Linked DNA regions of Homo sapiens: region 2 is linked to region 1. A link means that fine-mapping ties the variant in region 1 to the expression of a gene that starts in the linked region. Tissue or cell type: whole blood. Region 1 holds a variant in brackets; the other region holds the start of a gene. All regions are shown on one strand. Distances are from middle to middle. Region 1 has its middle 130 kb from the start of ANGPT1. Region 2 holds the start of ANGPT1 (angiopoietin 1).

Evidence for each region. PIP is the estimated chance that this variant, and not a neighbour inherited with it, causes the effect.
Region 2: ANGPT1 starts here. The variant in region 1 is fine-mapped to the expression of ANGPT1 in whole blood (INTERVAL, PIP above 0.99). The same link has a PIP of 0.9 or more in neutrophils.

Annotation. Positions count from the first base shown.
Region 1 is chr8:107,626,377-107,637,160 of GRCh38, reverse strand. No RefSeq gene overlaps it. Among named protein-coding and RNA genes, the nearest start is that of ANGPT1, 130 kb to the right of the region's middle. The variant T/C (reference allele first, on the strand shown) is at 4,870.
Region 2 is chr8:107,493,481-107,504,264 of GRCh38, reverse strand. It overlaps ANGPT1 (angiopoietin 1), which reads left to right and starts at 6,347. Exons shown (of 9, transcript NM_001146.5): 1 at 6,347-7,003. The coding sequence starts at 6,707. RefSeq lists a silencer at 2,648-2,848.

The DNA of each region.
Region 1 (10,784 bases):
CACTTCAGAGCTATTTTAAGTTTGGGAGTTGTAAGGCTCTCTCTCTTCTTAGAGGTGATAGTAGCTGACCCAGGACACCTGGGTTTTAAGTGAGTTTGCACTTTCAAGACCTGCTAGCACTCATTGAGTTTTCAACTGCATTATATGTCCCAAAAAATTGTGTTTTATTCATATGGTTTCCTTAATTTAAAAGGTTTAATAATAATAACAATGAATATAAAATAAACATTGATAAATACCATTTATTGTTTATTAATTACTGAGCACTGTAATCAATTATCTGCATGATCTCATTGAATACATGCTAGAACCTTGAAGTAGGTACTCTTATTTGTCCTGTTCACAGATGAGAACACTGAGGCTCAGAAAATTTAAGTAGAAAGTCCAGTGAAATAGAATGCAAGTGGTGAAATTGAATTCGTACACAGGATTGCAGATCTTCAGAGCCTATTACTCATTTTTTTCTTATTTTTAGAAGACTAAGGCTTTAAAAGGAGGGATTAAAAAATGTGTGTGTGTGTGTGTGTGTGTGTGTGTGTGTGTGTGTAGCTGGGTAGGGACAGGAGTGGGAGAGATCATAAAAAGTATTTAGGTGTTAATTAAATTCTTTATTTTTCAGTATCACCCAGGGGATATATCTTGTATTATATGTGTGTGTGGTGTGTATTGCATGTTTGCATGAGTACATTTGTGTGTATAGGTGTGTTTTCCATTTTCCAACTTTTTTGTGTGCTCAAAATTTTGTTGTGAGTACTGTTAATCTGTGTTTTATCCTGGGATTTTGAGATGCTTATATTTATCTGTCACTTTTGTCATCTATCTTGTGGGTAATATTTGAAAGTCTCAGTTTCTGCAGATCACAGCTGGGAATTTAATAGACAGCTCTTTACTCCTTTCATTGTGAGCTGGCCGCAGACTCACTTTGTACATTGGTGTGTTTGGGAATAACAGAAAAATAAAGAAAAACCAAGGATAAAGGCAGAGGTCTAAAGACTAGGAAAATAAGCATCAAGCTCATTTTGGTGACGATTGTGAATTGGCCTAACTTTACAATGCCTACCCATTTCCCTCCGCTATTCATTCATCATCATCATTAATTTCTCTCTTCATTTGCTAAACAGATGAGTAGCAAGGGAGGCAATAGAATTAAACCCGAACAAAAAGGCCCCTTTCTCCTCAATCCTCAGTGTTCCTTCGAGAATAAAGACTTTAATGATGGGAGGTCCATTTCAATTCTCTGGAGCCAATGCATTTCTACCTCAGTAGTCACTGCTTTCGGCAAAAGGAAATGCCTGTAAAGGGGTAAAGATCCGTTAACTGACCACTTCAAAGAGAATTAACCTGCCAGAGGAAAGGGTGAATGTTTTGCAAACTTAATCTTTCCTGGGCAAAACCGCATTATGAAGTGCTGGCCAGGCACTTTCTTGCCTTCTTTGGAAAACAGGCTTTTTGTGTCCTTAACTTCACAGCTAGAGACACATATATCCTCTCCAGCACCTGATCTCTCTCCCCTGACTTGCTTGTCTGTGTTATTTCTTTGCAGAGCTGCTGCACTGTCTATCTACCTGAATCATCTTGGCTTCATCTTACAAATTAGCTGCCTAATTAGTCTTCCAGAAGTACAGATTTGATGACGATATTTTGCTACTCAAAAAGCTTTAGTGGCTTAGCTTTATGTAAACAACAAAACTTGGACTTTCTGGCTTAACCTTCAAGACTTTCTATGACTTAGCCTTATTCTACCCACCCGAACATTTTCTGCCTCCCCTCCCTGCCCCTGCATTTTTAAAAAGTCCACTTCACTTAGACCAAACTTAAACTTTGCTTCCACACAATAGTAAGTTCCTCAAGGACAGGATTTTTGTCTGTTATATTTACTGTTGTGTCTCCGACACCAACAACAGTGGCTGGCTTCTTGTAGGTGCTGGATAGACACATAAATAGAGGCTGAATTGATGGAATGAATAAACGGCCATTTTCCACATTTCCCAGACTCTGTGACTTTGCTTACTTCTTCTCTTCATGAATAAATATTCAGCCTTTGTTCAGAACCTGTTAATAAACCACCTCTCCCATTTAGGCAATATCAGATTAGCTGAAGTAAATCTCTCCCTTCTGTTAGTTCCAATAATTCTTTATATTCTCACAATTCTCAGTCACATATTTTTGTCACTTTTATCTTTCAATTATAACTGTTTAGATGCATGTCATATTTTTTTGACTAAACTTTAAGCTCTTTGGGCAGAATGCACATCTGAATTATATTTATCCCTCCCGCTATTCCCAACCACTAGTTTATAGTAATGATTCTAAGATATCATCTTGCAGGTAAAAGTCACTCAAAAAAGCACTTGGTTAAGAATTTTTTATTTTATATTGTCACTTCCTGTTTTATTAAAATATGTTGTAAAATCTTTGCGGTCAAAGATATATCATTCAGTACTCTTTTCTTGCATCACAGTCAACTTCATTTTAATGAAATAATGATGGTTTCATTAATAGTTACTGAATTATTAAATATATTGGTAATGGATTATTCTTCAGCATTTTAGGAAATAAGAAACCATTTACATCCAAACCCATAGAATCCACAACAACAAGAGAACCTTACTGTAATGGACTTTGGGGGATAATGATGTGTCAATGTAGGTTTATTGGTTGTAAGAAATGAACAATTCTGGTGTGGAATTTTGGTAGTTGGGGAGGCTATGCATGTGTGGAGCCAGGGAGTATATGCGAAATTTCTGTAACATTGTGCTCAATTTTGCTGTGAAACTAAACCTGCTCTAAAAAATAAAGCATATTTTAAAAACAAAACAAACAAACAAAAAATGCATTTACATACATACCTCTTCCTTTATACCCTGCTGCTAAGTAGTTTTAAGACATTTTTCTTCCAAACTGAAGCTAACGGGAGTTGAAGATGAGAAGGTAGGAAAATATATCTTTGCCTTTGGTTTAAAGTTCCTGTGTATCCCAGGCAATAGAACAAAATAATATTAACACTTATTTCGCTGAGGGTAATCTCATATTTATGTATTTCCAGAGTATTTACAAATAGATGTGACAGCACTATACCAATTTTTGGCACTTTTTTTTTCCACATTGCTGCTGCTTCATTTATATATTTAATTTTTTGACTATTTATACATATGAGTTCTGTATTAGTCTGTTCTCACATTGCTTTGAAGAGATACTCAAGACTGGGTAATTTATAACCAGTTCTGACTCACAGTTCTGCATGGCTGGGGAGGCCTCAGGAAACTTACAATCGTGGCAAAAGGGGAAGTAAACATGTCTTTCTTCACATGGCAGCAGGAGAGAGGAGTGAAGGGGGTAAAAGCCCCTAATAAAACCATTAGATCTCGTGAAAACTCACTCACCATCATGAGAACAGCATGGGGGAACTGCCCCCATGATCTAATCACTTCCCATGAGGTCCCTCCCCCAACATGTGGGGATTACATTTCAGATTACAAATCAAGATGAGATTAGGGTGGGGACACAGAGTATATTATTCAACCCTGACCCCTCCCAAATTTTGTCTTTCTCACATTATGCCTTCCCAACAGTTCCTCAAAGTCTTAACTCATTTCAGCATTAACCCAGAAGTCCAAGTTCATAGTCTCATCTGAGACAAGGCAAGTTCCTTCCATGTATGAGCCTATAAAATCAAAAGCAAGTTAGTTACTTCCTAGATACAATTGAGGTACAGGAATAGGGTAAATACACCCATTCCAAATGGGAGAAATTGGCCAAAACAAAGGGGCTGCAGGCCCCATGCAAGTCCAAAATCCAACAAGGCAATAATTAAATCTTAAAGCTCTGACATAATCTCCTTTGGCTCCATGTTTCACATCCAGGTCATGCTGATACAGGAGGGGGGCACTCATGCCCTTGGGCAAGTTCTTAGGGGAGAAAGGAAAAACCAAGAATAAATGAAGTGGAGAACAGTTTCCAGAATTCACAAAAAGCAGGCACATTTATCTAATAAGACATGTGCCTGCAAAATTACAGCCTTGATTCCTGACTTGGTTATTGCCCTCCAGGGCCTGCTTCTCCAGGGAAGACACATTTTTCTGCAGGCTTCTTTCCCTTTGTTCCCATCACTGAAGGCAATAATCTATGCAGAGGAATCTTGGATTTGGCCAAAGGCTCTTTTCAAGATGTATTGATTGTAATCAATTGAAGATTTCTGAAAAGAAGATATGCATGCAGCATTTAATGAGTTGACGTTTAGCTTCATGGTCTTGAAAATAAATGATAGTGAGAATTATCGGCATTAGATTGCCAAAAAAAAAAAAAAAAAAACAAAACAATAAGAAAAAAAACTGTAGAGTGTTCCATGGTTACAGGATTCTTCCTTTTTCCCTATTTTCCTTAACTTCTCTTCATGGGGGTATAATTATGTTTATTCATGCCACTGATATTTGATTACTCCTGGGTTTCAAAATGGCTATTCTTTCACAAAACTTTCCTTCTGAAAGAGGAACTATATGTATTGTTATTTTCCTTCTGAAAGAGGAACTATATGTATTGTTATTTTCCTTCTGAAAGAGGAAATATATGTATTGTTATTTTCCTTCTGAAAGAGGAACTATATGTATTGTTATTTTCCTTCTGAAAGAGGAATTATATGTATTCAGCAGGACTTTGGGAGCTCGGAGACCCTTATACGTAGGCACCTGTTTTTCCTGAGATGTTAGCAAGTATCCTTGGTGAACGAGGAACGTGCTGCTTTCTAATATACCATAAAAGAGGGTTTGTTTAGATTCTCTTTCAGGAAAAGAAGTTAGAGATTAGACATACTGAGGTTGTCCTAGCTTCGTGGAGAAAAAAAAAGTTTCTTAAAACTGCTTCCTTAAAATA[T/C]GGCACTGTCCAAATTGAATCATTGTATTACACAAGTGCTATCTAGTTTTCAAATCTAAATGTAAACAGATGGGGGTGACAAATAGATTCAAACATCCTCAAAGTATGAGTACGGAGACTTAACAACCAAATAGAGGAAAGACTGAACCTATTAGTTAACCCTAAAATTAATCCACATTCTTAATTTTTTAAATATTTAGTATTTTTACTGTTTCCATGCATTCTAGGAATTATAAAACAAAAGCCCCAACGTGAAAACAGGGCTCTAGTTCTATTTATGGTTTTTCTCACTCAAAGACAGAAAAGACTGAAAGCATCTATAAGTCCTATTTCTCTAATTCCTGGAGAGTGATAAATATTTAGCCAAACACATGATTACTCATTTGAATGTTTCAAATAGACTGATGTTTTGCCAACATAGAAACCAAATCTAGTTTTGGGTGGTCATAGTTTTACAAGTTAGTCACTCACCAATAAGCATCCATGAAAATTGAGTTTATCATTCATGTACTAATTTATTTATTCATCAACTTATTTAATAAGTATATATTTAACGCCTATTATGTGACAGGCATTGTCCTTGCTGCCTGGATACTGAATAGTCAACAGAATAAATCTGATTCCTGCCCCCCAGGGCAAGAAAACAGCCTGTTGAGGAAAACAGATATGAAACAAAACGAAAGAAATAAAATATTGTCACAGAGGGCTGAGAAATAAAAGAGCAATATATTGATGAATAAAAACATATGCCATCATACGTAGATAAATTTGGAAGCATAAACATCTGTCATCATACACACGTAGATTTAGAAGCATTACCCTCTATTCCTTCTATAAGAAAACACAGATATTTGTTACCTAGAGCAAACATTTTGTAATCTGGCCCTGCAGTGTTATAATTTACTGTTTTGCTGGCCCCCTCATTCTCTCTATAAGGTTCCATGAGTGACTTGGGCACTGGTCTTCCCTACTTTCCCACATGATCAAGGGAATTCTCATTCTACAACAAGTCCTAAAAAGTCAAATCAAACTCCACTTCGACCAGTCAAGGCTATTGTCTCCTTGACCGACTACTAAGTTTTCATGCTGAATGGTGCATGCATCTCTGCAAATTGTTCTTCTTTATTCACCACTTTATGGCCCACTTTGTCACCTGCTATTATCTGCTCACTTCCCAGATTTTGCTCCTACCAGCTTTCTTGCTAATCAGGTTTTTTTTTTTTTCCCTGTTTCTAAACATACATCTCAATGTCTGGTGTGATCTTCACACATTTCCCAGTCACCTTCCTCAGCTAAACCTGTCTACTTGGCAGACAAGCACTTTGGAACTTCATATCTACTCTTTCTCATGACACTGACATATTCTTTTTTTGGCATACAAATGTCAACAGGTAGGATCAAATGGAAAAGAGGTGTGAAAGGTTAATTCCCCAATATCAGCATCAACTATAGGAAATGTATTTGCAGAGTAACAGCTAAGCGGAACTCCTTGAATGAACAGTGCTCTGTGACAACTATTGAATGAGAACATTTCTGTCACAATGAAGACAAAGGTTGTTTCAATGTCATGGGTCACTGGGTGAAGAGCAGAGAAAGCCAGTTCTTCATGCTTATACAAGAGCCCTTCAAACATGGGAAGCCAATGTTACAGACGAGGGTTTAGCCAAAGAATGAACAGTTGTTGCCAAAAATCAAAGGATTTTTTTTGAAACCCAATTTTTGATCTTAGTTAAATCCCTGTTTGGGATACAGGACCAATATCAGTCTGTCATCATCATGCACAAAGGAAACTATAAATTATAAACGCATCTACGTAGAAAACAAATAGAATTGTTATGTACATTATTAGGGAAATCATATTATCAGTGAGTTTGCTTCCAGAATGGAGGCTGTGTAAATAAATGGATTTTACAGGATGAATCTTTATTAAAAAAAATATTGTAGATCACCTGAGGTCAGGAGTTTGAGACCAGCCTGGCCAACATGGCAAAAACCCGTTTCTACTAAAAATACAAAAAATTAGCCAGGAGTGGTGGCGTGTGTGCCTGTTGTCCCAGCTACTCGGGAAGCTGAGGCAGCAGAATCACTTGAACCTGGGAGGTGGAGGTCACAGTGAGCTGAGATGGTGCCACTGCACTCCAGCCTGGGTGACAGAGGGAGACTTAGTCTCAAAAAGATAATTGTAAAATTGTAGGGGAGAAGAGATTTTTTTTTTCTCATCCATTCATTGTTCAATTCATGACTGAGACCCTGGTAATAAAAAATTAGATTAACAAGAGAAAAGCACACAAATCTATGTAGTATAAGTTTTACTTGACATAGAAGCCTTCAGAGATGAAGACCCCTGCCAAAAAAAAAAAAAAAAAAAAAAAAAAACAGGGAAAATTGTGCAGTTTTGTGGACAATTGTGCAGAAGTATGATTAGAGGACAAAAAGTTCTGACCCAACGGTAATAAACTGGGTAAAACTTAGCAAGACCTGTTTGTTCAGATTCTTCTCTGTGTCTTCATTCCTTTTTTCTGGGTAGAGGGAGGGCTCCTCTGGAATGAGAATGATGACCTACTTTAGAGGAAGGTCAGATAATTATTTTATGGTCTGCTTCAGGGCACAATGGCAGGAGAAGGCCAAAGAGATGTCCATCCTGCTTCTGCTGTTTTTCAAATGCCAAAGTGCCATATTTTGGGAAAACATATTCTGAACTCCATTAAAATGGAAATGTTATTTGTTAGTCTAAGCTGAAAATAAAGTAAAATAAACCTCTAGACTCTTCTTTTTTTCAAAATGGCATCCTTCCAAATTCCTCCGTTTATCTCTATATTTTCTTTTCATTGATTTTTTAGAGACAGGGTCTCACTCTGACACCAAGGCTGGAGTTCAGTGACACACTCATCGCTCACTGCAGCCTCGAACTCCTAGGCTCAAGTGATTCTCCGGCTCAGCCTCCTGAGCAGCTGAGATTATAGGTGCATTCCACCATAATCATTATTTAAAGTTTTTGTAGAGACAGGGCCTCTCTATGTTGCTCAGGCTTCACTGAGATTAATTTGCAATGGGAAAGACTTCAATTAAGCAGAAAGAAGATCTTTCTTAATAAAAGATTCATAAGAATTTGCTTCATGATTTATTCATTTATACTCATCTTTTAAAAATTATTTGAGATGACTTAAAAGAGCATAAAATAAGAAAGTAAAGATAAATAAATGAAAAAAGGGTAAAGAGCAAACAAAACAGGAAACAAAGTTGAACCAGGGATAAAGGTAGTGTTCCTAAGAATGGATTGGATTCAAGTATACTAGTAGGGAAGACCCCATGTGAGAGAATAATCAGGAATGTAATCCACAGATTCTGGGAGCTCAGGAGACACAGTTGTTTGTGTACTGACATCCAAAGAGGGTTTCTGTTGTGCAAGTCTAAAAAGAAGACATAGTGTGATGGCATAAACAACATACTCAACAATATTAGTTCAATAAGAAAAATAGAAAATGTTATACATTTTATTTTGGCATGCTATATTAGTTTCTTGTTGATAGAACAACATTGCTACTATAACAAATTAATTCAAATGTAGTGGCTTTAAACAACACATATTTATTATCTAACAATTCTAGAGATAGAAAGTCTGAAATGAGTGTTAGGGTGCTAAAATCAAGGTGTTGGCAGAGCTGTGATCCTTTTGGAGGCTTTAGAGGAGAATCCATTTCTTAAATTTCCAGCTTCTAGAGTCTGGTTGCATTTCTTGCTTACTGGCCCATCACCCTGACCTCTGGTTCAGTTATTAGAGAACTCTTTCTCTCTCTGATTCTAACCCTCTGTCTTTGTTTTGCAAAGACCATGGTAGTTACACTGGGCCCGCCAGGATGATCCAGGATATTTCCCCATCTCCGGTTTTGTAAGTCCCTTTTGCTGCATAAAATAGCATATTCCAGGAATGAGGATATGGCCTTCATTGCGGGGTAGTTATTCAGCCTAGCACACATGCCTTAATGTAGGCAGATGATTGGGTGATAAAAATGTCTATGTACGCAGCTCTCTGATACTTTTCAATATACAAGGAAAATTAGGAGAGTTCATAGTATATTCACATTTTACCACCATGAAAGGAAAATCTGTTCTGGCAGTTCTAGTTTTCATTTTGATAATAAGCAGTAGGTAACTATTCTGGGTTCAAAGAGTTTATCTTCAGACCTATCTCTGTTTTCAGGGTCAAAGGATAAGGAAACACCAATAAAAGCTGCAAGTAATTTTCTATAAATTAATCTGCCTGGCAATAAAGAGTGTAATGATGGTCAAAAGCAGTAGCTCTGCTTAAACTGCTGGTCCACATGGAGATCATTGGCCTAAGAAACTCAAATCTAAAGTTTGTCAAAGTGGAAACTGAATTTACATTTTATAAGGAATTAGATAGATAGTATTAGAGAAAATACCTAACAATCAAAAACTTTTACAAATTTCTGGCAAGTTAGCTTGTTTCTGCTGGCTGAGAAGCTTGCTAGGGAGTTGAACTCTGGTGTCCTCTTCTCATAACATCTCCTATCTTTAGAAGTAATTCATTTGAAGGTCTCACATCCTTGATAACCAGGAAGTATAGCATTCACATCAGGTGCAGAGTGGGAAAGCCACTCCTGCTGACAACTACTTGCCCCTGAAAGTTGACGTCCTCTTTTGTAGTCTCATTCTTACATTAACTTGTAGGTGAAACTAACTAGGGGAGGGTTAACTTTTGGCCAAGATCTCTGAACTGGCACGTCTCAGGAGGTCATGAAGGGAGGTGCCTGGCCCCAATCATCGGAAGATCTATAGGCAGAAGATGTGCCACGTTTAGTTTCATCTGAATCTTTAGACAAATTCTTGGACAACAGGAAAAGTACCATGGGTTCTGCTATCATTATAGACACATTAATCTTAATATCCCATTAAATGATATATTAGTTTGATAAGCCTGCCATACATGATAAAATATCACAGACTGGGTGGATTAAACAATGGAAATTTGTTTTCTTGCCACTCTGGAGGCTAGAAGTCTAAGATCAGGGTGTTGGCAGAGTTGGTCTGTCTCTTTGGCATGTAGATGGTTGCCTCCTTCCCTTTGTTTCAAATCTTCTTTTCTCTGTGCATATCTGTGTCTTAATCCCTTCTCATAAGGACACTGGTAGTATCAAATTAGGGTCCACCTCAATGAATTCAATTAACCATAGTGCTTCTTTTAAACCTCTATCTCCAAATACAGCCATGTTCTGATGTACTGCAAGTTAGGACTTCAACATTGAATTTGTTATTCGTATCTTCCAGCTTCTAGTGTCTGCTTGCATTTTTGGTAGGTAAAAGGGAACATGATTCAGCCCATAATAGTAGTAAATTATCAAATAATTTAGTCATAGGTAATCACAAGTAAAGAAAGCTTTGGTAGCTGAAGTAGCTTTTGATTTTTGTGTGAGCATGGTGAACACTTCTACTTCTCTCCTTATGAGGTAGTGTATCAAATCCCCATTTTTCACCCTTGGCTCCAGTCTAGCAGAGACACTTGTACTGGTCCAAGAAATAGACCAATCAAGACTGCACGATTTTCCAAGCTGGAACTGGCTAGAGGTGAACACACTTTTATTTTATAATACACATTATCAAGACATGAAATTTCCTTTTGGGGAGAGTACTTTACAAAATGAAGTCCAAAAGATAAAATAATGGAAAGAGAAAAAGAGAGAGCAAGGGCCCTTAGCTCCTAGGTTTATCCTCTCTGAGGCGGAACCCACAGCTGTATCCGTGAAATGTTATGTTTGTCAACAAACTCCCTTTTAGGCACACCCTAGTTCAACTTACATATCTGTCATTTGCAATCGAAGCGTCCTGACCACTACTGCTGCTGATATGTGATTGAATGTATCCCTGCACCTCACCTGAACGTGTGCGTAACAGAC
Region 2 (10,784 bases), 130 kb after region 1:
TCTTTTTTGAGAGTTTCTTAGAACATGTAAAATACATGTGCTTTCTGAAGTTGGAAAAGTTGAGACAGAGAGGCCTTTGCATTCTGCTCTCATCTAGGAATCAAGACTTCTGTAGGGAAAAAGAGAAGAAAGAAGGAGGCAGTTAGTAAATGCAAAGTAGTTTATATGCTTTTTATAATAAAATCTCACTGGGTCTCCAATGGAAATCCTTCTTCATTCTCGTATGAGGGGAATGTTGGCATCTGTATTTCTGCATGGTACAGTCCTCAGCTGTTTGTTTTCTTTTCTGGCTTGCGTATTTGTAGAAGTTACCTTCATTGTAGAATTAACAACTAATCTCACATTGAGAGGTATTTCTGAGATGTTTCTTGAATGGTTTTTCAACCGTGGCAATGTTCATAGGTGGCTGGAAGTATTAGGTATTATTCCACTACCACTGCTGGGATTGACTTTTGGAATCTATGGACTCTGGGTGCCTTCTATGACTCACCACAAAGTGAGATCTCTAGGGCCTATGCAAGTCTAGCACCTGAAAACTTGTAAGGGACTGGCTCTGTGTCTTCACATCTCATCATTGAGATTTAAGGTGAATGAATCAGACAGTCAGCTGGATATTTATAAAGTTCATCCTCTGTGCCAGGAAAAGGGGACAGACAGATCAATAAGACAGACACAGTTCTAGCATTTGGGACTCTGATCTAGTGTGAAAAACAAACCTGAAACAAATGACTTCAATTGCATTCACATTAATAGTCTGTGTAATCCATATGTTAGCTGTTCCCATGCTTGAAGCAAAGACCAATTCTTCAATTCCTCTTATTCACCTTTAAGAAGTCATTTGCCCCAAAGTATATATTTTACTGAAACAGATAAGACAAATTTGATCTCACTGGAAACATTATTTCACTCCAAATCTCCTTACTTGATATATCTTCCCAAGTCTCTCATGGCCACACAGCCACAAGCCTCCTCTCTCTTTCAGCAGCTCTGCCTGACACAGAATCTCTAAACCTCTCTAGCTCCAGTCCTCCACTTCTAGATCTTTTCCTGAGTCTCTTAATCCCTTCTCTCCTTTCTTAGGTAGAGCAAATTAATTCAGTCTCAGCGGTTTCCACCTTGTATATCTATAGTTTAAAACCAACTTAACAGGCTGAGCCTGGTGGCTTACGCCTGTAATCCCAGCAGTTGGGGAGGCCGAGGCTGGTGGTTTGCTTGAGTCCAGGAATTCGAGACCAGCCTGGGGAACATGGTGAAACTCCATCTCTACAAAATAATACAAAAATTAGCCGGGTACGATGGTGCATGCCTGTAGTCCCAGCTACTAGGGAGGCTGAGGTGGAAGGATCACTTGAGCCTCAGAGGCAGAGGCTACAGTGAGCTGAGATCATGCCACCGCACTCCAGCCTGGGTGACAAAGCGAGACCCTGTCTCAAAAATAAAATTAAATTAAACCTACTTAACAAACAAGATACCTAACAATTACCAGAAATTTCTGTCATCAAAAGACAGAGGAATATTTATATGATAATTTTTATTTTCCTCACTTATCTATATGCCTCCAGTCCTCATCCCACTTGCTGCAGTGTTTCCAGCTTTTTGTAGCATCCTCCCAGTTATTCTGGGAGTTCTAAATGGATATTTTGCATGTACTCATGAAGTGCCTTCAGTTACCAGATGATATCCTCCATCTTCTTCTGTTTTTGGTTTTGTCCCCTGTGATATTTCCAACTGTTGTGGATACCTTTGCTGCCTACATAGTTGAGTGAAGGTGTCTTGGCTCTGCTTCCAGGAGCTACAGCCAAGTGCCCTCCCTCCTTTTAGATAGAGCTGCCACTTCTATAGGCCTGATGATAGTCTTGATCCCTAAAAGTGCCTGAGCAGAGTCACAGAATATGGCACCCTTGGTGTGGTGAATCACATTGTGTTCAGAACACAAAGTAGGAGAATACTTTCCCACCCCTTTTTCCCCTATAAGTGGTTGTATAAATACCAGAGGACTATTTCCTTGAATCTCATTGCCTGGTGGTATTTTTGAGAAATAAATACTATTTTTTTTCATATATTTTGATTTTATTGTAGAGCAGGAGTGATGATCAAGATATCTAACAGATGACATGGCATAGGACCAACCATTTAGAATATTTCTAAAGTATAATCCGATTAATCAGATTGGCTGTTGGTAAGCATATCTTACCATACTGGTGCATCCTGATTTAATATTATCCCTGTTTTGGAAGATCATAACATGAATCTGTGAAAGCCCTGGGTTTCAGAGGAAAGGGACCTCTGAAGGGGGAAGTCACCATGTTGTTCTTGTTCCCTAAATTATAAGAAATATTTTCTCAATACTGAAGTATTGTCATAAACAATATAGCTCAGTGGGAAATGAATGTGAGCCTCACAGTTAGATGGATTGAGGATCAAATTCCTGTTCTGCCTCCTAAGAGATCATAGATCCTGGGCGATTAATCTCTATGGCTCCACATTTCTCATCAGCAAAATGGGAATAATAATATATAATATTACATAATTATGGGGGTTCTGTAAACATTAGATGAGAAAATTATTTGTTAAGTGTTAAAAAATACTATGAATTATTATTGTACTTTGCTCTTGCGTCTAACTCATTCTTTAGAATAAGTTTGGCTTTATCCTCAGTTCTTCATGCCTAGGGATTCTAGGCAAACTCACCCAACAAATGCAATGAATGTGGCCAGTCATGTAGTAACCAGATAGAGAGTCAGGAAGTTGCATCAACTGAGTCATTAATCAGCTCATTCATTTATTTGCTTATTCTTTCATTCCTTCAGACAAAGTGCATAGTGAATGTTGAGGAATCAATGATGACAAAGAGAAGATCACTTTAGCAGCTCACAGCAAAAGCAAGAGACAGATAAAAAAAAAGGCAACAATTAGCAAGCAACGTGAGCAGTGCAGTTTTGGAGACATGAGGAGAAGGTTATTGAAATTTAACACAGAGAGCATTTATTGGACCTGGAGAAATTAAGAAAGCTTTACCAAAGAATTATCAAAGACTGTTTCTTAGGATAGATTTAGGCACATTAAGTTCTGGTATAAATGGCTCTTGGTCCCTTTGGAAATTTCAGACTAAGTGGGACATTTACTAGGACTCTTTGTAAATATGAGATCAAAACCTTAAAGCCTACACTTCCTTATTCCAGATCTCTAATAAAACACAAAGCTTTTGGGTTCAAGCTACCACAGAATTCAATTGAACAGAATTGTTTAGTTCTTTATAAATATTTTATCCTTCATGGAGGTGTGGTAGATGAATTTTAATTGGCTTGTTCTTATTACTCGCTTATTATTATTATTATTATTTAGAAAGGGTCTCACTCTGTCATCCAGGCTGGAGTGCAGTGGCAATCATGGCTCACTGCAGCCTCAACCCCCTGGACTCAAGCGATTCTCTCACCTCAGCTTCCTGAGTAGCTGGGACCACAGGTCCTGGGCGTGCCACCACACCTGGCTAATTTTTATTTTATTTTATCTTGGGTAGAGACAGGGAGGGTCACCCTATGCTGCCCAGGCTGTACTCAAAATCCTAGTCTCCAACGATCCTCCCACTTCGGCCTCCCAAAGTGCTGGGATTACAGGCATGAGCCACTGAACCCAGCCCTACTCCCTAAATTTTAATGCATCCTGAATTCTGCCCCATTTCTGAATAATCAGCAACACACAACAGTGTTGCTGTTGCTTAGATGCATGATCCCAAAGACATATTATCTTTAGTGTGTCAGGATCCTTAAATGTACCTACAGTCTCCTTAACTGGAGTTCCAAAAACACCGGAGTCAATTCTGCACATCCTTGTGTTTTCTAATTACTTAAAATTCATCTTCAGACATTTTTTTTCAGAATGACACTAGTACTTCCAGTGTTATGGTTTAAGGTTGATTTTGTTTTTCTGCAAAAGAAATAAATCAGTCTCTACATTTTTCTCTGTCTCTTTGTCCCTCGACCCCTCCTTTTTTATTTGCATTTCAGGCTTCTCTTTCTTAGTGTCTACTTTTCCCTCAGGAAATTGTGCATTCCTGCTTTTCATTTATTCTAATTGCGAAAATTCACATGGATAAGGACACAGAGACGTACACAGACACACACGTGGAGGAACAGATTTTTAACAGTCTCGGCTATTTAAAAACACAGGAGCACTTTAATAGAAACCTCACCACTCATCCATTAGTCTTCTGCCAATTTTCTGCTGTATTTAGTTCTTCGCAAAACACTTCTAGGTGTCGGGTTTGGACTCTCTTCTTTCCATGGATAATTTTCAAATCAAGCATTATTGGAAAGTGTTCTTAGACAACCTGCATTTTGCCAGTGCACTTCATCTTTGTGGCTGTGCATAGGTTACCTGTCACTGTGTGTGTGCGTGTGTGCGTGTGTGCGTGTGCGCGCGCACGCGTGTGCTGGAAAAGGCCTGAATCACTTTGGAGAGATACTCTGGTTTTAACAGTGCTTTTTCTTCTAGGTACGTCACTTCTCCTGGTTTAGGACTGTAAATCAATGCAGCTGGAGCGCTTTTGAAATTGCTTTCATTCCTTGCAGAGATTTCCAAAAGCAGGCTGGCCTGGTGGTTTGAAACAGGCTCTGAGTCAGTTTGCCTGAGTTCACATACTGGCGCCATCACTTGCCAGCTCTGTGAATTACATCCTGTTAGCCTTTCTGTGACTCAGTCTTCCCATTGATAAAATGGGGTTAAACGGATGATATCCGTGATCTTAGGTTTGTTGGAATGATTAAGTGAGATAGTGTGTAAGGAGTGCTTCGCCTGGAAAACAGTAAGGTCTTAATGCATGCCATTATTATTGTTGCACAGGAGTGATACATGACTCAATGAGGAGACACGCAAAAGTTCAAGAGGCTGCAAAAGTGGTTCAAATATTTTATTGCTGTGTTTGGCATAACTTGCTTCCATATCTGTCCAATCAGAAATTTGTTATTTGGTGTGGAAAGGACTGATGAATCTCGGCAAGGTTTCTTTCCCCAAGTAAATCGCATTTGTTCTGGAATTTGTTTTGACCTCTCCTCTAACTTCTCCCTAAATGCCCATCTCTAACCACTACGGACCTTCACCCACTGCCCTGTTCTCCTTCCAAGACATGGGAGATGACAGCTGTGGCTTCTGTTTTCACACCATGACTGCAGTTGTCTAAAAGCCCTCCCAGTTCCTAATGAAAATCCCAACTCATAATTCAGGTTTTCTGCATCTAGTAAAGATCTCAAAGCCGTTCCCTAAATTCTACAATTATTGCCTGTTTATGTTTATGGGTCCCTTTGTTCAAATGTTTATACGCTGCCTGTGGGAAATCATCTTCTGATAATTTTTCTTTCTTCCTTCACAGAAGCACAGAGATGTCTCCTGTACAGCCCATTGCTGGCTGTTAGCACACCTGATATATGCTTGTTCTCACATAGTATGTCTGTGCAGCCACAGGAGGTTTTTATGTGGAACTTCCACACCAGTGTTAAAGACAGCCATAGCCACCAAAGAGATCCTTGTAAAATACAGGATTAGGATATACCACAGGAATTAATAATTCTCAAGCCACTGCTTTAAATTGTAGCCACATTGTTTTTGTAGGGAAGTTGCTCAATTTATATACACAGAACATGAAGGGTTGCATTCTGATCAGGACACCAGTTTCATTTAAGAACCCTATACCAAAAGGTACTTAGATAACCCTCTTTAATATGCACATACTATATTGCTTTGTGCAACATATTGCTTTGAGCAACAAATGATGCTAATTTTCTTGCTAATTTGATCCTCTCTGATTATTTTCTTCAACTCCTAAAAGTCTAAGTGAATACAATGAAAGAATACCATCTGTAAAAACTGTTTTTTAACATATTTTTCCTCAGAGTCAAGAATACATGTTTTTTAAAGACATTTAATAATGATATGGGTTTATCATTCTCTATCAAAAATAATTCCATTGGACATTATGCCAATTTTCTTCTTAGGGTCCCTCGACTAAATAGTAACTTTAAAAACATACTGCTAGTTTGCTATATTTTAGTAGGTCAGCATGCACACCAAAAGTGTATTAAGGTGGACTGCTCTATTTATTGATTTGCCATGAATCTGCTAAAGGCTCAAGGCAATTGTCTGTGGAAAGGGGCGGGAGGGCCATACATGATCGAGGTCATGCGCATCTAGCCAATTTGTAAGACGATCCCGCCGCCCTAAGCCATCAGCAATCCTTAGTATAGGGGCACACTCATGCATTCCTGTCAAGTCATCTTGTGAAAGGCTGCCTGCTTCCAGCTTGGCTTGGATGTGCAACCTTAATAAAACTCACTGAGGTCTGGGAGAAAATAGCAGATCTGCAGCAGATAGGGTAGAGGAAAGGGTCTAGAATATGTACACGCAGCTGACTCAGGCAGGCTCCATGCTGAACGGTCACACAGAGAGGAAACAATAAATCTCAGCTACTATGCAATAAATATCTCAAGTTTTAACGAAGAAAAACATCATTGCAGTGAAATAAAAAATTTTAAAATTTTAGAACAAAGCTAACAAATGGCTAGTTTTCTATGATTCTTCTTCAAACGCTTTCTTTGAGGGGGAAAGAGTCAAACAAACAAGCAGTTTTACCTGAAATAAAGAACTAGTTTTAGAGGTCAGAAGAAAGGAGCAAGTTTTGCGAGAGGCACGGAAGGAGTGTGCTGGCAGTACAATGACAGTTTTCCTTTCCTTTGCTTTCCTCGCTGCCATTCTGACTCACATAGGGTGCAGCAATCAGCGCCGAAGTCCAGAAAACAGTGGGAGAAGATATAACCGGATTCAACATGGGCAATGTGCCTACACTTTCATTCTTCCAGAACACGATGGCAACTGTCGTGAGAGTACGACAGACCAGTACAACACAAACGCTCTGCAGAGAGATGCTCCACACGTGGAACCGGATTTCTCTTCCCAGAAACTTCAACATCTGGAACATGTGATGGAAAATTATACTCAGTGGCTGCAAAAAGTAAGTGATTGCTTTCAGTTTCTAATAGCACGGACCTTTTTCCTTTCTTGCACTGCAGCTAACTTAAAGTTCCTTAGGGGAGCATTTGTGTATTTACCTTTTGCTCCAGGGGGGCAGTGTTTGCAATTGCAAGACGGCTGTCTGGGTTTGGCTTCCTGGGTAAGCCAAGGTTTGGGGGCTTGCCCAAACCTATGAATGTGTGGGGGCACCCCGTTTGTGTGTCTAGCCCTGGCAAATTTTATGACATTTTTGGTTTCTCTTTTCTAAAGTTCAGCATTAAGGTTCTCTCTGTCAAAACACTACCTTAAGAAAGAAAGTATGTACCTCTTAAGCAAGTTGGTGAAAAATAAATAATAATGACAATATTAATTAATAAGATCAAATCGATTTTGCACCAGAAAATTTTGTGCCGCTGGGGTGGCAAATCATCACAAAGTATTTGTTTTTTTAACCTTTATAAAAATTAACATGAAGTGAGAGTAAATATAAAATATGATATTTGGTTGGAGAAATTGTATATTTATGTAAAGGGAACTGTTAGTTTCAGCAAGTGGTAGAATAGTAGACTGATTTCTGTTAAATATTTTTTTCTTCTGTCCTTGAGAAAAAAAATTAAAAAGATACATTGTAATGTTAACTGTCGGAAAGGGGTTGCTCGCTCACGATGAGGGCATGCTGGCTGTTGAGGAAGACATGCACCTGCAGATATGGGCTGAACGCAGCATGTAGTCTACTATATTCCTGAAATACCTCCCTTCTCAGGGCATTGTAGTTAGAGACAGTACCTGGCGAGTTTAAGTATCCATGTTATTTGATGAATGTTAATGTTGAGTATGAATGTAATCTCAATTTATAGAAATCAAATCGAATAGTTTATCCAGTTATTTATCTACAAACCATTTAAGTTTTTGTTGAAGATAAGCCTATTAAATTATGAACACACTTCTGCAATTCATTCTGTCTTTGCACTCTGTTTAATAATAGGCAGCCGAGAATAAGTATATTCAACTGACTATGCTACTAGAAGGGAGGCAATGTCTCAATTTGTGAAAAGCTTCTCTCCCTTGTTAATGGATTCACTTGGTACATGTAGATAGGTATGCAATCAGGCTTCTTTAAGTTAGTCTGTTAACCGGGCAATCCCTTTAAAAAGATAAAAGATAGGGAAAGGACAAATGCTCTATTTTGTTCCTGTGTGGTCACACTCACTTAGGTCATTGCCTGCTGAATCATGCCAAGTAATAGTTATTCTACTTTTGTCCACTAGGGACTGAACTAAGATCACTGTTATTTTATTTGACACATTAACTGGAACTTAGTAGTTCTACAGTTTCCAAAGCTGATATTGTAATCTTTCTATTACAGACTATAGGACTGTAATAGGCAATCAGTAGGTAGGCAGAAGAATAAAAAGCAAACAGAACTCTCAGGTTTTTTACAATTGTAGCTGAAATTTTATGCATTACTTTCAGTAGTAGTTTATAATAGGATGTTTGTATTTTTCTTTGGTAAAATTTATTTCCATTGTAAACAAATGATTTTGGTTGAACAGCTTGTTATTATTCTTCAGTACACCATCCGTATAGTTTTTAGTGAGAATTCAATCATTACATATTAGTCTGGATTCTTTGAGGGAACGGGAAGGAAAATTTAGTCCCAAGTTATCCTGAATGATCTATTCTACCAAAAACGTAATGTTTTGTTTGCTTAAAGCGTATAATCACAATAGTGATTCAAACATAGTAATGCATATTTCTTGTTGCTATGCAATTATTCAGCAGTGACAGGGTAAACACATAATTCTGCTGGGCTTAAATCATGCACGTGTTTCATATGTTAATTTATTTTGCAAAATAAATTTGATTCTTGTTTGCATTGTTCTTGGTCAATGATTATGGGATAGCTTTCAGATTATAGCCAAGAATAACTATTAAAATGTTCTTTGGTTACATTCACCCTTTCAAGTGTAAAAATCAAGCTGAATATATGCTGAAAACGTCCCTATTGGTATGAGTCAGAGCAATGTGGCTTGACTATTGTCAGTTTAAATTTGCATATCTTTTGTCATTGTCAATGTGATTGGTTGGAGGATCAAGAAACCAAAAAATGCATTCAGCAAAGAACTTGCTAAAGGCTTTCATAAGTTTCCCTTAATTAGGAGTTTTCTTCACTCCAAGTTCTAAACTTCATGTGATATTTTTATTCTGATAATTGAAATGGAAATCTTTTTACTGTAACCATTTGGTATGCTCAGTACTGCAATTTGTATTACTTCTATTTTGATTCCAAGTAGTTGCCATAGGAAGAAGCAACACCCTGCAGAAACTGAGGCTATCAGTGTATGTAGGTGAAATTAATTTATCCATTTATTTGGCAAAATAATTAATCAAAGCATAGTGATTATTATGCAGCTCATGGCATCGCTATCAGGAAAGGTTTTGAGGCAGAATAGATGTGTTATCAACTCTAAATGAAGCTATATGATAATTATGTTAATCCATCACCTTCCATGAAGGGAAACCTCCTTCCTCAACTTTTCTGGTCTTGCAACTGAACAGGATGAGAAGCAAGGCATGCAAGGGGGCAAATGATTTGTGGGTCACCATAAATACTGGAACTGTTATGGCACTGCTTTCTTGATGTGATGGATTTAATTCAAAGAAATCAACTTTCCATAATCACTTGTCGATTAAAATGAGGTAGGTTGATAGCATTATTGTGACATCTCAGACCAGGAAGGGTGGTGTGAATAATATGCCTAACATCATAGTTTTATTTTGTGAAACACCTGGGTGTGTTTCTGGTTTGATCTCTTCTGTAATACAGCTCTTTTTGGAATTATTAGCAAGTCATAGTAAATACCTGAGAGTGACCAGCTCTTAGATAAGTAATGATAAATACAGCTGGCCTCTGTGTCTTTGTCACTTTCTTATGATCTCTCCCTACCTCTCTATGACAGTGAAACATTTAGCCCACATCCTGTACTTTGTGAACTATTGTTTTCTGTCTCCCACATCTCAAAAAGTTCACAAAGATGTACATTTAAAATATTTAGATTTAAATATGTATAATGTTCTAAGATTTGGGGAATCCTTAGAAGATCTGTTTTGCTTTTGCCAAATGATGTCTTTTTTTGTTAAAAGTTTAAATAAATTGAGTCAATAATGCCTTGTAACAGAAAACAATAGTCTATTTGCTATACATATTTTACACTAGCTAAAATTGATGACTATTAATGGAAAATATAGTTATGAATTGCCATCCAGAATATTTTAAGAAATACAAAGATTTTACTGGACTATTTAGCTGTTTTTCTATTGACAACATTTTTTGGTTAAGGATGTCCCCTATTTGCATATTGTATTCTTTTCTTCAGAGTTAAGATTTGAAATGCTATTACCCAAAACACATTGATGATGACGATTTTTTTAAACCCATATATTACATATATATTAATCCCTATTAATATCCATTAGAATGTGACCTCCATGAGGCCAGTGACCATGTGTGTTTGTCCAATGTCATAACCTCAGTTCCCAGAAGAGTATATAACATATTTATAACAGATATGCAATAAATATGTGTTAAATGAAAAAATGAATGCATTATCTATTGCATTCTGCACTTTACTGTCTACTGTCAGCATTTTATTCGAGGTATACACCTTACCTCTTCAATAGATTGTAAGTTGTCCTATAGGCAAGGACTATAACCTATGGTTATTTTTGTCCTAATACTAGTTAAAACAATATTGGGTCCAGAGTAGGTGGTTATTAATTAT